Homo sapiens: one gene and its partner. The protein of the gene in region 2 interacts with the protein of the main gene of each other region in a biochemical or structural test. Each region holds a gene or a part of one and is shown on either strand. Other genes may lie near its edges. The genes, in order: MXI1 and RPS6KB1.

The links.
Region 1: of the proteins of RPS6KB1 (region 2) and MXI1, one has a biochemical effect on the other in vitro, tested with the Homo sapiens proteins (one study listed by BioGRID).

What each region holds. Positions count from the first base shown.
Region 1 is NC_000010.11:110,210,566-110,214,383, forward strand, and holds part of MXI1 (max-interacting protein 1), read left to right. Parts: intron 1-2,302; exon of another isoform or gene 2,303-3,818. UniProt on the Homo sapiens protein: Transcriptional repressor. MXI1 binds with MAX to form a sequence-specific DNA-binding protein complex which recognizes the core sequence 5'-CAC[GA]TG-3'. MXI1 thus antagonizes MYC transcriptional activity by competing for MAX.
Region 2 is NC_000017.11:59,934,326-59,938,143, reverse strand, and holds part of RPS6KB1 (ribosomal protein S6 kinase beta-1), read right to left. Parts: intron 3,711-3,818; coding exon 3,620-3,710; exon of another isoform or gene 3,616-3,619; intron 2,952-3,615; coding exon 2,844-2,951; intron 1,930-2,843; coding exon 1,867-1,929; intron 1,681-1,866; coding exon 1,603-1,680; intron 567-1,602; coding exon of another isoform or gene 518-566; exon of another isoform or gene 370-517; intron 1-369. UniProt on the Homo sapiens protein: Serine/threonine-protein kinase that acts downstream of mTOR signaling in response to growth factors and nutrients to promote cell proliferation, cell growth and cell cycle progression.

The DNA of each region.
Region 1 (3,818 bases), on a different chromosome or scaffold from region 2:
TGCGACCATCCGCCAGGCCCTCTGTTATCCCCCTTGCAAAGAGAAGCGGTCCACGGGGGCCACTTTATCCCACCCCCTCTCCTCCCCTCCTCCTGCCCGGTCTAGGTCTCTGGGTACGGAAAACGGCGGGCCCTACATCTGCCTCGTTTTATGGGGGGCGCTTCTTCGCGCTGGCGGCGCTCGTCGTTGTTTTCTGCTCGCTGCACACAATGCCCGCGCGTCACGGCAATCCGCGTGTGCACAGCAATAACGCGAGTCGGGGGGCGGGTCGTGCGTGCGCCCGGCTCGGGCACTGCGGGTCGCTCGGCGCGCGCGGGGCTTGTTTTGCTCCAGAGCTCTGCTTTCCGAAACGCTTACATCATTCAGTCGTTGGGGGAGGGAGAGGGATCTGGGCGTTCCGATAGGATTCCAGCATCTACCGGGTCCCTGGTTTCTGGAAGGAAGCAGGGACCCTAGCTTTTTAGTAGTTATTATTGGGGGTGGGGTTGGGTAGTTTGTTGTGTACGTCTTTTTTTTTTTTTTTTTCGGTCACTACTGCAAAAGGGCATCGTTGGCCGACTCAGGTGCACAACCTCCCCGCCTTCATTTCAGCGAGTTCCCCTATAATCACTTGATCTCGGTTTCTCCGCCTTCTCCTCCTCCCCCTCCCAGCTAGAGACACATGGTTTCCACATGGAGACAAACTTCTTTCCTCCGACTGGACTTGACCTAGCTGCGTCGTTCAGCCAATCGGCAGCTCCAGCCTCTTCTGACGTCACGCGTTGCTGGGGCCGGAGGCTGGGTGGGGGGTGGAGCCAGGCTGCAAGCCAGGAAATCTCTGGGAGCTGTAGTGCGGCCAGCTGGTCCAGTCTCTTCTTAAAGGGACGCTCTTCTGTCCGGAGATGAGTGTCGGGCCCCGATTCTCCATTTCGGGTTCGGTGAGACCTTTCTGAGATGCATGGTGGACCCTGGTCACGAGTTAACACGTTCCGTTTTTACTGCTGTTTGCGAAGTACTTACTTGGCAGGAGCTTGCCTTATTTTCCATCGTAGCCAGAACTGCTTTTCGTTCCCTTGTTGAGGTTTCCGTACTGGTAGTGTTCACCAAGTTGTGGCCACATGGCTGAATTACTTCCAGTGGAGAGGTTGAGTTTTCTTGGAGGAGGGGTTCAAATTAAGTCACATTGTTGACTGTCTGCTGTGTGCAAGGCAGGGGGGATTCCCTAGGAAAGGCAGGTACATTCTCCCAAAACTCCAACTGATGTGAATCTCTACGGATCACAAATTGAAGGCCTCCAGAAATATTAATCATGAAGGCTGTGATCCTATTACCACAAATTCAGAAATTATATGTAAATAATCTCTGACATCATCACCTATATGCATTTTGAGTCCAGTGGAAGGGTGGGAATTAAGGACTGACTAATAAGTAGAAAAAGATCTTGGAAAAGGTTAAAACTAAAAGAGAAGAACAGATCCATAAAGGGATGTTATGTGCATAAGAGCCGACTGGCAGGTAAGTGAAACAAGCTGTGAGAGCAGGTAAGGTCTGGAGGAGAGAAATGGGCTTCCTAGTGTCTGGAGGAGGTTGCTTTGGAGGCAACACTTAAGATAGGGAAGGACGATCAGATGAGAGTAGAAAGCCATAAGGCTCCTTGGAGTGGATCACCTGGGTTTGAGGGTGGGGTGCTTTCCTAGGGGCACGGACAGCCCAAGAAACAGCCTGTTCCTCCTGGTAGAGGAAGCTGCTGTTGTGTGGTGTCATTTGGCCCCACCCTGCCTTCTGACTTAATCTCCTCTTCCTTGCCCTGAAACCTCTGTGTCTGTACAGCAGATCCACCAGCAAGCAGGCTTCACAGTCGAACCTCTGTGCTCGACTTAGACTCTTCCACTGTCTAGAATGCTTTCATTCTCTTACTCCCCTAGGGATATCTGTATCCTACCTTCTCTTCAAGACTTAGATCAGTTTCCACCTCCTCCAGGAAGCTTCCCCTAGCTATTTCAGCCCATTTGGCTCTATTTGTTAAGTCATTGTACTTGAGAGAATGAAACCTTTGCAGTCACATGGAGCAGGGCCCAGCTTGCTACTCTACTGCTTACTGGCTTTGTGACTTTGGACACAACTTACTTAGCCTGAGGTTCCATTTCCTTTTTGCAAAATGGGGATAACAATAGTATGACCCTCATATCATTGTCAAACAACTCAATGAGGCACTGCACTTAAATATTTAACGTACCTGAGATATAATAGGTGCTCAATAAATAGCAACTTCTCTGAGCTTTGATAATCAGTACCATGCACTTCTCTACTTGCTTCCTGTGTGTTAGCTTTACCTTTACAAGGAGTTTATTAGTAACTTAAGAGAAAAGATCACTTACAGTATTCAATGCATGTTACCCATTGCATATAGCACACCACTGGGCATACAGTAGTAGATCCTTAATATAAATGTTTTGATTGGTTAGATTTGTCATTTACTGCTAGCTATGGCACGAGGATCAGGTTTGGAGGCCAGGGGACACGTGACAGCCTTTCCGAAGATTTGGAGACGAGTCAGAAATACTGATCTCCAACTCCCTTGGGTGGTGAGACCAATCCCTGCAAGAAGATGATAGTTCAGACCTGAAGAGCTGAGACTGCATCCTGTGAACAGCTGTGACCCTGAGAAACAAATAAGAAAGAAGGAGACTAGAGTGACTTCTGCTGAAATCGAGGGCTTTGATGGCAACTAATGTTCAAGCTGGTCACGTTTTTGCATGGCAGCAATCTTATGAATTCATACATTCTTCAAATGTACATTGAATGTCTACTATGTGCAGATGCTTCTTTCTGAAAACTCTGTAGGTTGAAGTATGGTGGGGGTGGAGTAGGGTATTTGTCTTTAGTGGAGTTATGTGAAGAGCATTCTTAAATCAGGCCCTATTTCCTCTGCATCCCAAATTATGTTCCCCAGATTCAACTTATTTTTTCCAGTTTTAAATATGATCTCTGCTGACTGGTAAATACCAGAAGAAGGCTTTTTTGAGGATATTGTTACGGCTTTCAGAATCACGGAGCTCCCAAGGACTGTGTGTCCTGGAAAGGAGATCCAGGGAAAGGGGACAGGGCCTTGGAAGTTAGAGAAGTTGAATTGAGCCATTCCTGGTTTGGGAGCAAAAAGGAGGCTCCATTAGCTACCAAGGCAAAACAGTAGCTGCTCATCCATCTCTCATCTCTGATGGAAACAGTCTCCCACTGACACATCCAGAAATGGGGATTCATCTGGAGATGCCTGGGCAAAAGTCTAGAGGTGAAACTGAGGAAAATGAAGAGGGTGCTGGCGTGCAGCAGCAGCAACTAATTGTATGGCATAATATCAATAATGGCTACAATTTATTGAACACTGACTATATTCCAAGTATGGGGCTATGCATTCATTATCTCCCCTGATCTTCACAACAACCTTCTGATGGATGCAATTTTATTACCCTCTTTTACGGAGGAGGGAACTGAGGAGCAGGGATGCCAGGTAATTTGCCCAAAGGATATATAGCTAGTAAGTCGCGGAGCTGAGTTTTGAACTTAGGCCTCTGATTCCAGAGCCTGTGCTCTTAACCATATACACATGTACTCATTTCACAGCCAAGGAATGAAGTCCAGAGAAGTGAAATGACTTACTCAAGGTCACCCAGGAACCTGAAGCAGAGCTGGTATTTGAAACACCTTGTTTATTGTCCAAGGTCTTCCTGCACACACCTTGCTTAGAAAAGGTTTCGAAGTGAGGCTGGAGTCAGAAGAGCCAACCAGAGAGGCTTTTTTTCTTTTTTTGTCTTTCAGAGTTGTTCAACTCTCCTGGCCTT
Region 2 (3,818 bases):
AAAAACAACTAAGGAAACTGTCAACTTCTGAGGTGTGATGATGGGATGGCAGTTATGTTTAAACAAGATGACCTAATCATTTTTTAAGCTGGGCAGTAGGTATATGACAGTTAACTTCCTTACAATTGTTTGTTGTTTTTTAAAGTGGGGACATTATGCTCCATGACCAAAAAATAATCACCATCATCATCCTCCTCCTTCTCCAACTACATCCTAAGGAATGGAAAAAGAAACTGTATTTTCTCAGATTCTGAGGTGGGAGAAGGACAATAACTAACACACTAACTGATTTACTCACAAACATATTGTTATGGGTTGAATCGTGTGCCTTACCCACCCCCAAAAAATTTCGTACATTGAAATTCTAACCTCTAGTTCCTCAGAATGTGACCTTATTTGGAAAGGGTTATTGCAGATGTAATTAGTGAAGATGAGGTCCTACTGGAGTAGAGAGGAACCCTAATCCAATATGCCTGGTATCCTTATAAAAAGGGGAAATTTGGCCACAGATATGCACACAGGTAGAACACCATGTGAACATGAAGGCAGAGATCCGGGTGATGCACCTACAAGCCAAAGAATGACAAAGATTACCAGCAAACCACCAGAAGCCAGGGGAGAGGCATGGAACATACAGTTTCTCACAGTAGTCAAAGAAACCAACTCTAACAATGTGATCTAGAACTTCTAGTCTCCAGATCTATGAGATAATAAATTTCTGTTGTCTAAGCCACCCGGTTTGTGGTACTTTGTTGCAGCAAGCCTAGCAAACGAATGCACACATATTCTATACTTTGAAGAAAAAATTCCCAGAGAATCATATTTAAAATGGTTAAATTAAGCAAAATAAAACAAACCAAAAAAAGGAAAGTCCCAACTACCTGAAATATTTGTCTTAGGTAACTGACTTAAAAATAGCTAATACAGTCAATTGCCACTGGGTTTAGTTCTTTACAAGATAGTACAAAAATAAAAGATGCTTGGCTGGGTGCAGAAGCTCACACCTGTAATCCCAGCACTTTGAGAGGCTGAGGTGGGTGGATCACTTGAGCCCAGGAGTTCAAGACCAGTCTGGGTGACATGGCAAAACCCTATTTCTATAAAAAATACAAAAAAATTAGCTAGGCATGGTGACACGTGTCTGTAGTCGTAGCTATTTGGGAAGCTGAGGTGGGAGAATCACCTGAGCCTGGGGAGGTCAAGGCTGCATTGAACTGTGATCGTGCTGCTGCACTCCATCCTGGGTGACAGAGTGAGACCCCATCTCAAAATAAAATAAAATAAAGATGCTGGAGAGGATAGACCAGAGATCTTTGAACTGCTAATAAAAATAATGTTTCTGTCTGCTCTGAGATTTTTCTTATTCTAAAAAAATATCAAGCGATCCTCCTGCCTCAGCCTTGCAAGTAGCTGGGACTTACAGGCACAAGCCGCCACACCCAGCTAACTTTTAAATGTTTTGTAGATATGGAGTCTTGTTATGTTGCCCATGCTGGTCTTGAACTCCTGGCCTCAAACAATCCTCCCACCTTGGCCCTTTAAAGTTTGGGGATTACAGGCGTGAGCCACTGCACCCAATTATACACTTTCATGTATACTTACCAACAGAGGTTTAAAGGGGGGCTCCACCTTTCGAGCCAGAAGTTCTTCCCAGTTAATGTGTCTAAAGAATGGATGAGCCTAGGAAAAAAAAAGCAGGAAGAAAAGTTGAGGGGACTAGACTTTGCTGGATTGATAAATTAATCACCTTTTTGAAGTTACAAGTCACAAAATAAGCTAAACTTATAAGCAACTACATATAACCCTCAGAAATACATAAAACTAGCATTATCTTCCCCACAAAACACCAAAGATGCCAATCCCTACTTGAACTTCTCCAGCGTCCCCAGGACCAGCTCCCAGACGAGAAGCAGCATTTCTTTTCAGCAGCTTTAAAGAGGAAAAAAAGCTTGGATAAAGAACCTTAGTCAAACTGATTTTTTTTTTTCCTTTTTAGACTGTGCTTGTCTACTTTGGCTTGAGAAAATATAGTTTATTGGCCAGGCACAGTGGCTCATGCCTGTAATCCCAGCACTTTGGGAGGCTGAGGCAGGTGGATCACCTGAGGTTGGGAGTTCGAGGTTGGCCAACATGGTGAAACCCCTTCTCTACTAAAAATACAAAAATTAGCCTGGCGTGGTGGTGAACACCTGTAATCCCAGCTACTAGGGAGACTGAGGCAGGAGAATCACTTGAACCTGGGAGGTGGAGGTTGCAGTGAGAGCCAAGATCATGCCATTGCACTCCAGCCTGGACGACAGAGCAAGACTCCATCTCAGAAAAAAAAGAAAAGAAAAGAAAAGAAAATATAGTTTACTAATTACTACTTAATATTGTTTAAGGGTCTGTAATCCCAGCACTTAGCACTTTGGGAGGCCAGGGCAGGTGGATCACCTGAGGTCAGGAGTTCCAGACCAGACTGACCAACACGGTGAAACCCTGTCTCTACTAAAAATACAAAAATTAGCCGGGCGTGGTGGCGGGTGCCTGTAATCCCAGCTACTTGAGAGGCTGAGGCGGAAGAATCGCTTGAACCTGGGAGACTGAGGTTGCAGTGAGCCAAGATCGCACCACTGCACTCTAGCCTGGGTGACAGGGCAAGACCCTGTCTCAAAAAAAAAAAATTTAAAAAAAGAATATGAAAAGAAAGTCTTTAAACAAATCTGTACTTCGCCTTCAAAAATTGAAGACTTTTTTGTTCAATATTTATATATGACTCTTTATTCAAAATATACATTAAATTCTATCTAGTTAAATCCTAGTCATTGAATCTTGTAGTGTCAGTGACCATTTAAGAACCTTACCTTTTTAAGCAGATCTCTGGCTTCTTGTGTGAGGTAGGGAGGCAAATTGAGTTTACATTTGAGGATTTTGTCAATTGTTTTCTTTCTATTCTCCCCAGTGAATGGGGGCTAAGAGTAGAAGACAAGTGAAAAATATTAGCAGGGAGAGAAAAATATTAGCATATAAGAAACAAATTTTGAATAATATTATCCATTTCCTAAATTAGTTATACATGGAGATCAGAAATGTATGCTGTGAAATGGGCTAACTGCTAAAGACCTTTATTTTGTTTTACAGACAGGGTCTCAACTATGTTGTCAAGGCTAGATTCTATTAATAATCCTTAGCTCAAATGATCCTCCCACCTCAGCCTCCTGAGTAGCTTAGGCTACAGGCATGCACCACTGTGGCCGGCAGACGTGCAGTTTTTAAGCAACAGGACAGAGGAAGTAGCAGTGTCCTGGAAGGAAGCCTGTGTTTCCACCATTAACTTTCTGTGTGATAAGTGAGCTATGTGATTTTATGCTTCAATTTCTCCATTTATAAAATAAGGGCATTATCTATTCAACATCTATTTCACAGGCCTGCCATGACATAGATCATTTAAAAGAAAATGTTTCGGAAAGTATGGGATCCCATATAATCATACAGCATTATTAGTGTTAAACTGCTAATAACAAATCTTTGGGCTTTGAAAACTCCACTGGTAACATGTTCAGAAAGCACAGGACAGGTCTCTTGCTATAGTGACTCAGCACAGACCAATAATACATGCAGCTTTTAACTGTGCACCTACTGCTCCAGTCAGCATGTCATACATTAATGCTCCCAAACTCCACCAATCCACAGCACGATTGTGGCCACTTCTCATCAAGATTTCAGGGGCCCTACAATGAGGAAAATAATATGCTTAAAAATTCACCCATTTGCATATCATCTGAATTAGAATTTTAAAAACAATATACAGAGTCAATGAGGGTACAGAAAACAGATAC